Homo sapiens: one gene and its partners. The protein of the gene in region 2 interacts with the protein of the main gene of each other region in a pairwise test. Each region holds a gene or a part of one and is shown on either strand. Other genes may lie near its edges.

Region 1 (3,652 bases), on a different chromosome or scaffold from region 2:
AGCCCTGCTGAGTTCCTGTTCTCCACAGGCGAAAAGCAGATGCGCTTCAGCCTCTCAGACCTCCCCTATGATGTGAACTCGGGTGGCTATGAAAAGGATGTGGAGTTGGTGGCACACCACAGCCTAGAGCCTGGCTTTGGAAGTTCCCTGGCCTTTGTGGGTGCAGAGCATCTGCGTCCCCTCCGCCTTCCACCCACCAATTGCATCTCAGAACTCACGCCTGTCATCAGCTCTGTCTACACCCAGATGCAGCCCCTCCCTGGTCGACTGGAGCTTCCAGGATCCCGAGAAGCAGGTGAGGGACCTGAGGACCTGGCTGATGGAGGTCCCCTCCTCTACCGGCCCCGAGGCCCCCTGACTGACCCTGGGGCATCCCCCAGCAATGGCTGCCAGGACTCCACAGACACAGAAAGCAACCACGAAGATCGGGTTGCGGGGGTGGTATCCCTCCCTCAGGGTCCCCCACCCCAGCCACCTCCCACCATTGTGGTGGGCCGGCACAGTCCTGCCTACGCCAAAGAGGACCCCAAGCCACAGGAGGGGTTATTGCGGGGCACCCCAGGCCCCTCCAAGGAAGTGCTTCGGGTGGTGGGCGAGAGTGGTGAGCCTGTGAAGGCCTTCAAGTGTGAGCACTGCCGTATCCTCTTCCTGGACCACGTCATGTTCACTATCCACATGGGCTGCCATGGCTTCAGAGACCCTTTTGAGTGCAACATCTGTGGTTATCACAGCCAGGACCGGTACGAATTCTCTTCCCACATTGTCCGGGGGGAGCATAAGGTGGGCTAGCAACCTCTCCCTCTCTCCTCAGTCCACCACTCCACTGCCCTGACTACAGGCATTGATCCCTGTCCCCACCATTTCCCAAGGAGTTTTGCTTTGTAGCCCTCACTACTGGCCACCTGACCTCACACCTGACCCTGACCCCTCCTCACCTATTCTCTTCCTCTATCCTGACCGATGTAAGCATTGTGATGAAACAGATCTTTTGCTTATGTTTTTCCTTTTTATCTTCTCTCATCCCAGCATACTGAGTTATTTATTAATTAGTTGATTTATTTTTGCCTTTTTAAATTTTAACTTATATCAGTCACTTGCCACTCCCCCACCCTCCTGTCCACAACTCCTTTCCACTTTAGGCCAATTTTTCTCTCTTAGATCTTCCAGCAGCCCCAGGGGTAGGAAGCTCCTCTTAGTACTAAGAGACTTCAAGCTTCTTGCTTTAAGTCCTCACCCTTTACATTATCTAATTCTTCAGTTTTGATGCTGATACCTGCCCCCGGCCCTACCTTAGCTCTGTGGCATTATATCTCCTCTCTGGGACTCTTCAACCTGGTACTCCATACCTCTTGTGCCCTCTCACTTTAGGCAGCTTGCACTATTCTTGAATGAATGAAGAATTATTTCCTCATTTGGAAGTAGGAGGGACTGAAGAAATTCTCCCCAGGCACTGTGGGACTGAGAGTCCTATTCCCCTAGTAATAGGTCATATTCCCCTAGTAATATGAGTTCTCAAAGCCTACATTCAGGATCTCCCTCTAGGATGTGATAGATCTGGTCCCTCTCCTTGAACTACCCCTCCACACGCTCTAGTCCCTTCAACCTACCGGTCTATTAAGTGGTGGCTTTTCTCTCCTTGGAGTGCCCCAATTTTATATTCTCAGGGGCCAAGGCTAGGTCTGCAACCCTCTGTCTCTGACAGATTGGGAGCCACAGGTGCCTAATTGGGAACCAGGGCATGGGAAAGGAGTGGGTCAAAATTCTTCTCTTTCTCCTCCACCTCTCAAACTTCTTCACTATAGTGACCTTCCTAGGCTCTCAGGGGCTCCTTCAGTCCCCATCCTATGAGAAACTAGTGGGTTGCTGCCTGATGACAAGGGGTTGTTTCAGCCCCTCAGTCATGCTGCCTTCTGCTGCTCCCTCCCAGCAGGATTCACCCTCTCATTCCCGGGCTCCTGGGCCCTGTTCTTAGGATCAGTGGCAGGGAGAAACGGGTATCTCTTTTCTCTCTTCTAATTTTCAGTATAACCAAAAATTATCCCAGCATGAGCACGGGCACGTGCCCTTCACCCCATTCCACCCTTGTTCCAGCAAGACTGGGATGGGTACAACTGAACTGGGGTCTTCCTTTACTACCCCCTTCTACACTCAGCTCCCAGACACAGGGTAGGAGGGGGGACTGCTGGCTACTGCAGAGACCCTTGGCTATTTGAGTAACCTAGGATTAGTGAGAAGGGGCAGAAGGAGATACAACTCCACTGCAAGTGGAGGTTTCTTTCTACAAGAGTTTTCTGCCCAAGGCCACAGCCATCCCACTCTCTGCTTCCTTGAGATTCAAACCAAAGGCTGTTTTTCTATGTTTAAAGAAAAAAAAAAGTAAAAACCAAACACAACACCTCACAAGTTGTAACTCTTGGTCCTTCTCTCTCTCCTTTTCTCTTCCCTTCCTTCCCCTTCCATCTTTCTTTCCACATGTCCTTTCCTTATTGGCTCTTTTACCTCCTACTTTTCTCACTCCCTATCAGGGATATTTTGGGGGGGGATGGTAAAGGGTGGGCTAAGGAACAGACCCTGGGATTAGGGCCTTAAGGGCTCTGAGAGGAGTCTACCTTGCCTTCTTATGGGAAGGGAGACCCTAAAAAACTTTCTCCTCTTTGTCCTCCTTTTTCTCCCCCACTCTGAGGTTTCCCCAAGAGAACCAGATTGGCAGGGAGAAGCATTGTGGGGCAATTGTTCCTCCTTGACAATGTAGCAATAAATAGATGCTGCCAAGGGCAGAAAATGGGGAGGTTAGCTCAGAGCAGAGTAGTCTCTAGAGAAAGGAAGAATCCTCAACGGCACCCTGGGGTGCTAGCTCCTTTTTAGAATGTCAGCAGAGCTGAGATTAATATCTGGGCTTTTCCTGAACTATTCTGGTTATTGAGCCCTTCCTGTTAGACCTACCGCCTCCCACCTCTTCTGTGTCTGCTGTGTATTTGGTGACACTTCATAAGGACTAGTCCCTTCTGGGGTATCAGAGCCTTAGGGTGCCCCCATCCCCTTCCCCAGTCAACTGTGGCACCTGTAACCTCCCGGAACATGAAGGACTATGCTCTGAGGCTATACTCTGTGCCCATGAGAGCAGAGACTGGAAGGGCAAGACCAGGTGCTAAGGAGGGGAGAGGGGGCATCCTGTCTCTCTCCAGACCATCACTGCACTTTAACCAGGGTCTTAGGTACAAAATCCTACTTTTCAGAGCCTTCCAGCTCTGGAACCTCAAACATCCTCATGCTCTCTCCCAGCTCCTTTTGCATAAAAAAAAAAGTAAAGAAAAAGAAAAAAAAATACACACACACTGAAACCCACATGGAGAAAAGAGGTGTTTCCTTTTATATTGCTATTCAAAATCAATACCACCAACAAAATATTTCTAAGTAGACACTTTTCCAGACCTTTGTTTTTTTGTGTCAGTGTCCAAGCTGCAGATAGGATTTTGTAATACTTCTGGCAGCTTCTTTCCTTGTGTACATAATATATATATATACATATATATATATATTTTTAATCAGAAGTTATGAAGAACAAAAAGAAAAAATAAACACAGAAGCAAGTGCAATACCACCTCTCTTCTCCCTCTCTCCTAGGGTTTCCTTTGTAGCCTATGTTTGGTGT
Region 2 (3,652 bases):
TAGAGGAACATTTAGAACATTAAGGGCTTTCTGTCATTGCTAGAGTGTGAGCTCCATACAGTTAGCTAACTATTCTGACACATAGTTGATAGTGTAAAGATGTTTGTAAAGTTAACAAAATCATCATCAATGTAGATGATTTCAGATTGACTTATGATATCTTGTGACAGCTAGACAGCATGAGCAACAAATTAAAACTGTGATTTTAGCCAACGTACTTGTGCAGTTTACAGTTCTGAAATGGAGTTAGACACTAGAACATAACTGTTTTATACTTCTGTAATATATCAGGAAAAGTTCTAATAAAGTATAACTCAAATATTGGCCAAGCTAGGACTAATTAGTAAATTTTAATATAAGGTGACTTTACAGAAAAACCCAAGAAGACCTTAAACATTTTAATAGACAACAGTTTATTTACAGTCCAATAGCCATTCAGCAGTTTTTAAAGTTATGCTTCCGCTATTGCTTTTTGCCATACTAGCATTTTAGGACATCATGTTTAATATCATGAAAATAGAAAAATGAGACTTTTCTTTTACAGCTCATGAAGCAGTCAAAGACTGTGGATGTACTGTCTAGAAAGTTAGCAACAAAAAAGAAGGCTATTTCTACAAAAGTTATGAATAGTGCTGTGATGAGGAAAACTGCCAGTTCTTGCCCAGCTAGCCTGACCTGTGACTGCTATGCAACAGATAAAGTTTGTAGTATTTGCCTTTCAAGGTAATGTGTTTTGATGGTGTTATAAAATCACCAGCATGCTGCCATTAGAAATTGCATTGACTTGGGTGGATAATTTTGTGAGTGCAAGGGATCAGTTCAGATCAGTGAACTGCAATGGGCCTTGATGCAGAGCAGTAGTATGTTGAAGAGCAAATGATAACAGTTTTCATATATTATTTATTTAATATGGATATACTCTGGAAAACACATTTGCTCTTATATGCAAATAAGTGGGACGGGGTGGCTTTTAGAAGCTTAGAATCACACATTTTGATTGCTGATGTAGTCTTTTCTGTTTTCTCTTTTTATTCCCGCTTATGTGGAGTAACCAGAACCAAATAGTAGAGCTCCTCTTTTACTCCCACCTCCAACTCTTTGACTCATAAATTTCTTCCTTTCCTTCAAGGCTTGGCTTTCATAAAGCCTTTCTTGATTAACTCAAATATATAAGTGTATCTGTGATCAATTACTCCAAACAAATGAATTTTTATACCTGTGAATTGCTATTGGGTTCTATTTTTTCTATTATGGCTCTTATTATCCACTACTGCTTTTTATTCTTGGAGGTTATTTTAAACCTTTCTGGAGTAAGTCCGGGGAACTAGTAGAGGGGGTAAAAAACAGAAGAAGAAAAATCTAGGATTTTTATCACACTAGATTATCATTTACTTTATAGTAACACTTATTATATAGGTATCAAGGCAAAATTTACTGTGAACTAAATTGATGAATGTTATTTTTTAGACTTACATAGTTCAACTTTAACATAACTAGAGAAATCTTATTTCATCATAAGGCGTCAGCAGGTTGCCCCTAGGGCAGGTACACCAGGATTCAGAGCACCAGAGGTCTTGACAAAGTGCCCCAATCAAACTACAGGTATGTTGTACTGGAAATACAGAACCTAGTTAAAATGGATTGTTCCAGACGTATTTTATTTTATGATCTTTGTCTATTTATAACTAATATTTGAGTTCTTCTGCTTTTAATTATGTAAGCAGTTCTTGCAGTGTGGCATTCCTATTTTTGAGCTAATGCTATTCTTTATGAAAGTTTTTAATCCTAATGTTGCCTCTCTTTTTTTGTTTAAACAGTTTATTCCATAGATTACATTTTGCGTATTTATTTACAAGATGATCTTACCATCTTGTAAATAAATACGCAAAATGTAATCTGTGGAATTTTGCTGACATCACCTTTGTGGGGGAAAAAATTATGTTTAATAGTTTTTGCCAGCCAAAGACTTAAAGCATTTTATTTGCTTGCTTAATACCTCAAAAGTTTCCTGTGATGTAGATATATTTGTGTTTGATTAAAATTACTTTTGTTATTATATAAACAATATAATAGCAGTTAGAAGGTTTTGAAAAAGAAAAATGTCTTCCGTAATCTAAAAACTTACCATGGAGCTGGAATCCAGGAAACATCTTGAATGAATAGATGAATCCTGCTATTCACTTGGATTATGGGCTTTGAAGAAATGTATTCATTCATTGAATGTCTGTTCTTGCTTGCTAATGATAACAAATAAATAAATGAGACCATCTGTTCACACTCTAGTCAGGACACCATCAAATAATTATAAAATAACCTGTTGAGTATGGTAATAAAACTTATTCAGGGTATTTAAGGAGTATCTAACTATCCTAACCCAAAGAGATTATGAAAGGCAATTCATGAAAGAAATGACCTCTTAGAATGTAAATTGGGCTGAGAAGTTAGCATAGAGGCATGAGCCAAGGAACTCAAGAAACAGCATACAGGAAACTAAAAAAGTTTCATTTTGGCCAGACGCGGTGGCTCATGCCTGTAATCCCAGCACTTTCGGAGGCTGAGATGGGCGGATCACCTGAGATCAGGAGTTTGAAACCAGCCTGACCAACATGGTGAAACCCCATCTCTACTAAAAATACAAAAATCAGCTGGGTGTGGTGGTGCGCACCTGTAATCCCAGCTACTCAGGAGGCTGAGGCAAGAGAATCACTTGAACGCAGGAGGCGGAAGTTGCAGTGAGCCAAGATCGCACCATTGCCCTCCAACCTGGGCGACAGCAAGACTTCATCTCAAAAAAAAAAGTCCAATTTTGCTAGAATATTAAGATGCAAGTTGAGGAATGGTGAGAGATAAACCTGGAATGAGGTAGACAAGGTCAGACCACAGTTGTTACAGTTTGGACTATATACTGTAGATATTGGAAAGTTAAGTGAAAAAAGTGACAATGGTATATCCTAGATGGATCATTCTGGCAGGCGTGCAAACAGATTAGCTTTTGGAGAGTGGTGGCATGAATTTGTCCGGGTGAGAGGATGAAAATGTGAATGAGGGTATTGGTAATAGGAATGAAAAGAAAAGTGAAGGGTTAGAAAGGCAGAGCTTGGTGGATAATTGGATGTAGAATTAGGGTGTGGTATGGTGAGGGAAAAAGGCATTCAGGATGTTTACCAGATTCCTAGCTTGGGAGACTTGGATGTGTACCAGTAACCAAGGTGGAGAGTAAAGGAGAAGTAACTGGTTTATAGGGGAAGGTAAGGTTAGTTTGGGGTATAATTGGTTTGAGGTATTTGTGGGACATCCAAATAGAGATTTCCAGCAGAATCAAAGTTAAGTCTGATGCTCAGCGAAGGAGCTGGGCTAGAAATACAGATGAATGTCATCATTATATAAATGACAGTTGAAGCCATGAAGTGGATGGACCAATCAGGGAGAGTATACAGAGGGAGAAGTTAAAACTCTGAGGAATATCCGTCAGCACTTAAGGCTTGGAGAAAACATTGAAGGAGCAGGCAGAGGTACCAAAGGAGCTAAGAAAGGCAAGTAGGGCCGGGCACAGTGGCTCATGCCTATAATACCAGCACTTTGGGAGGCCAAGGCAGGCAGATCACTAGGTCAGGAGTTCGAGATCAGCCTGGCCAATATGGCGAAATCCCGT
Region 3 (3,752 bases), on a different chromosome or scaffold from region 2:
GAAGAATCAGATAGAAGATAAGTGAGGAAATAGAGGAACTAAGCATCATAATAAACCAGCTATACTTAAAAGACATATACAGAACATTCCACCCAGCAAGAGCAGAATACACATTCTTCTCTAAAGCACATGAGGTATTCACCAGACTGTATGCCACAATTCAAGTTTCATAATATTTTACAAGATAGATATCATACAAAGTATCTTCTCGGACCACACAGATGAAGTTATAAATTAATAACAGAAGGAAAACTGGAAAAGTCACAAATATCTGAAAGTTAAACAACACTCTTAACAACTGGGTCAAAGAAGAAATCAAGGTCAGGCACGGTGGCTCACACCTGTAATCCCAGCACTTTGGGAGGCCAAGGCGGGTGGATCACCTGAGGTCGGGAGTTCGACACCAGCCTGACCAACACGGAGAAACCACGTCTCCATATCTCTAAATATCAAATTAGCCCGGTGTGGTGGCGCATGCCTGTAATCCCAGCTACTTTAGAGACGGAGGCAGGAGAACCGCTTGAACCCAGGAGGCGGAGGTTGCGGTGAGCCGAGATCACACCATTGCACTCCAGCCTGGGCAACAAGAGCGAAACTCCATCTCAAAAAAAAGAAAAAAAAAGAAGAAGAAATCAAAAGGGAAATTAGAAAATACTTAGAAATGAATGAAAATAACACAACATACAAAAACTTATGAGCTGTAGTGAAAACAGTGATCAAAGTGAAATGTATAGTTGTAAATAACTACATTAAAAAGAGGGAAAGGCTGGGAGCAGTGGCTCACACATGTAATCCCAGCACTTTGGGAGGCTGAGGAGGGTGGATCACTTTAACTCCAGAGTTCAAGACCATCAAGTTTTACACTTACAAATGATTAAAGTAATAAACATTACGCATGTTTTACCTCAATAAAAAGCCCCTCACCACCACCAAAAACGAAAAGAATGGTCAAAAACCAGTAAACTGGATTGGCAAGGAAAAGAACTCTAGAAGGATCCTCAAGTTTTCCGGTCTGGATAGGAGATGAGATGAACTTGAGATCATTAAAAGGTACTTTCACATCAGGACAGCTGGAGATCTCGTCCATGTAGCTGCCTGGGTTGTGAATGGTCAGCATGAAGTAGGTAACGGAAGCCATGGGAGTGCAAGAGTTTGCCCTAGGAAGAACTCCAAGGCAAGAACCCTGAAAAACACATCCAAAAGTGAGGGGAGAGCTTTCTGCTCTTCGGGCTCCCGCGCGACGAGTCTACACCCCTAGGCTAAAAAGACTTACCAAAGTTTAAGTGCAGAGGAGCCCTTCAGGCCCAAGGAGGCAGCGGACCGTCTAGGCCCAGCTACAGAAGAGCCGCTGAGACGGGGGTCCCGAGCAGCGGGTCCCTGCGAGGCGCACAGGGCCTGAGCCACAGACGCTTACGAGCTAAGGCACCTCGGGGTAGTAGGCAGTGAAGCTAGTGCCCAGAGTACGGTGCCCTCCGTCTGCGCCCCGCCCACAACGCAGAAATTCCCTCTCGGGGCCCCTGTTGTCCTCCGAGCCTTCCGATTGGCGGAGAGGACCATGGGACCTGGAAGTTGTCTTTGTCCGGCCAGGGCTGCCCTTCCGGTTCCGTTGGGTCCCCCTTTGGCTCGGGTTCCTTGCCCCTCCCCCTTCCCGGAGCCCCGAGGGGCCGGAGCTCCTGGCGGTGCCGGATCCTGACGGCGGCCTTCCCCCGGGTCTGTAAGTGCGGAGACGGCCGGAGCGGCGGGCTGGGGTGCGGGGTGTCTCAAAATGGAACCCCCCTGGGGCCCTGGATCAACCGGGACCTGCACTGGGATGGGAGCCGAGAGGCTGGCCTAGGCCCCTGGGGACTTGAGGAGCCCTTGGCCCGGCCCACGCTGCGCCCCGCCCCTTTCCCTTCCCTGTGACTGGAGTGGGGAGCCTGAGGATGCCCCTGGGACCGCCTCATAGGACCCCAGCTGAGGGCCCAGCAGTTGGCTTGGGGGCCTGACTCTGGCATCTTATAAGAAGTGCCAGAGGTGAGGCCCTAAGAAAACGAGCCTCGGGAGCCAGCCCAAGACCAGGCATTCAGTGCCAGTCTTTGAGAACCACTGTGAGTGCTAGGTTACCCTTTTGCTGGGGTTTTCCCCTATTTGGCCACTGGTCGCAGCACCTTTTATATTACTGGCGCTATACCAGACACTGGAGATTGGCAAGATATTGTTCCAGTTTTCGGGATTAAGTTTGGGAGCCAGATCTGAACAAATAAGTACTCCTATGTGTATATATATGTATGTATGTATCAGTCACATATGTGTTAATTGCTCAAGGGGCCGTTGCTGAGAAGGCTTTAGAAAGAAAGTGATGTCTGAATTGTACTTGGAGAGAGTAAAGTGTTGAAGAGTTTTTCAGGGAAGACAGTTGCAATACTGTGGAGAAATGACTGAGCATAACTTGTGTGGGAAGAGGAGGAAATGGGGGGACTCCTATGCACAGAATGGATATGAGACTGGGAAAGTCGACCGAGGTCCAGATGGTGAATGGTGTAATCCTAAAGGAGATGGGTAGTTTTTTGAAGAGTTCGGAACAGAATATTGATATGGTCAGATTTGCACTGCAGGAAATCATTTTGTTCTGTAGAAAGCCCATAGAGAAGGGACTTTCTATTAACTGCATTTAGACATTTAGCTAAAAGTTAGGAACGCTTATCGGAGATTCTTTTGAAGGGGTAATGGGATCAGCCTAGTGAGAGGCAAAAAATTCCTGAAATAAGTTATAATGGTGTCATTGGTAAGGAGACAAATATACTGGAGATGATTATGTCAAGACTCCATAATTAACTGAATGCTGAAGAAGTGTGAGGGACCAAATCTAATTCTTAGGTTTTAGACCTCTGAGCTGAAGGATGGTAATGCCATTATCAGAAATAAAGCCATAAGCTTAGTGTAGATTATGAATTCATTTTTTGGACATGTTGAATTAAAGGTCTAATGAGACAGACACATAGAGCTGTCCAGCATGGAGTTGGAAATGCAAATCTTTAGCTCAGCCTAAACATTGTAGCTAGAGGTAAAAGTTTGAGTTATCAGCATAGAAGTGGAAACCATGGCAATAGCTGGCATCAGGAAGAGAATTTTGAAAAATAAGGAAATTTGGGGGGGGAGGGTAATGCTTGCATTTATGAAGCAGAAAGAGGAATTGGAGCTAGTAGTAGTCAGCAGTAGGCAATAAAGTGTAGGAGTGCAGGGTTACAGCAAGCAAGAAGACCCAGAAATCAAGAGAAGGGAATTTCGAGGAGAGACCACTGGATCAATTCATGCAGAGCATCTGGAGACTTGGGGGAGGGGAGAGTATTGCATTTCTTTATGAAGAGGTCATTAGTGACCTTTTAAAAAGCAATTTAGTACAGTGATGAGGTGATACTCTATGAAATATTAGGTACCTCAGCTGGTTTGGTGTTAAATGGGAATAAGGATAGGACACATTTAAAGCATTTCACAAAGAAAATTGACAGGCTTTATTTGTATACCTAACACATGCTTATAGGGTACATACCAGACACTGTTCTAAGCTCTTTAAAAAATTAAATCATTTATTTTCCATAACAACCCTATGAAATAAATTACTATTGATAGATGGGAATATTGAAGCAGAGTGGTTTGAGTTTACACAGAAAGTAGTTGAGCAGGGTTTTGATCCTAGGAAATACGGCTCCAGAGTCCATGGTTTTACCCACTGCTCTATGCAGTGACTGAATATAGGAGCCAAAGGAGTGGGA

The links.
Region 1: the proteins of CDC7 (region 2) and IKZF4 interact in binary tests that used the Homo sapiens proteins (3 or more experiments, as listed by UniProt).
Region 3: the proteins of CDC7 (region 2) and ZBTB26 interact in binary tests that used the Homo sapiens proteins (3 or more experiments, as listed by UniProt).

What each region holds. Positions count from the first base shown.
Region 1 is NC_000012.12:56,034,543-56,038,194, forward strand, and holds part of IKZF4 (zinc finger protein Eos), read left to right. Parts: intron 1-28; coding exon 29-789; 3' UTR 790-3,652. UniProt on the Homo sapiens protein: DNA-binding protein that binds to the 5'GGGAATRCC-3' Ikaros-binding sequence. Transcriptional repressor. Interacts with SPI1 and MITF to repress transcription of the CTSK and ACP5 promoters via recruitment of corepressors SIN3A and CTBP2.
Region 2 is NC_000001.11:91,514,275-91,517,926, forward strand, and holds part of CDC7 (cell division cycle 7-related protein kinase), read left to right. Parts: intron 1-544; coding exon 545-723; intron 724-1,467; coding exon of another isoform or gene 1,468-1,477; exon of another isoform or gene 1,478-1,519; coding exon 1,520-1,602; intron 1,603-3,652. UniProt on the Homo sapiens protein: Kinase involved in initiation of DNA replication. Phosphorylates critical substrates that regulate the G1/S phase transition and initiation of DNA replication, such as MCM proteins and CLASPIN.
Region 3 is NC_000009.12:122,929,399-122,933,150, reverse strand, and holds the start of ZBTB26 (zinc finger and BTB domain-containing protein 26), read left to right. Parts: upstream 1-1,638; 5' UTR 1,639-1,714; intron 1,715-1,885; exon of another isoform or gene 1,886-2,087; intron 2,088-3,752. UniProt on the Homo sapiens protein: May be involved in transcriptional regulation.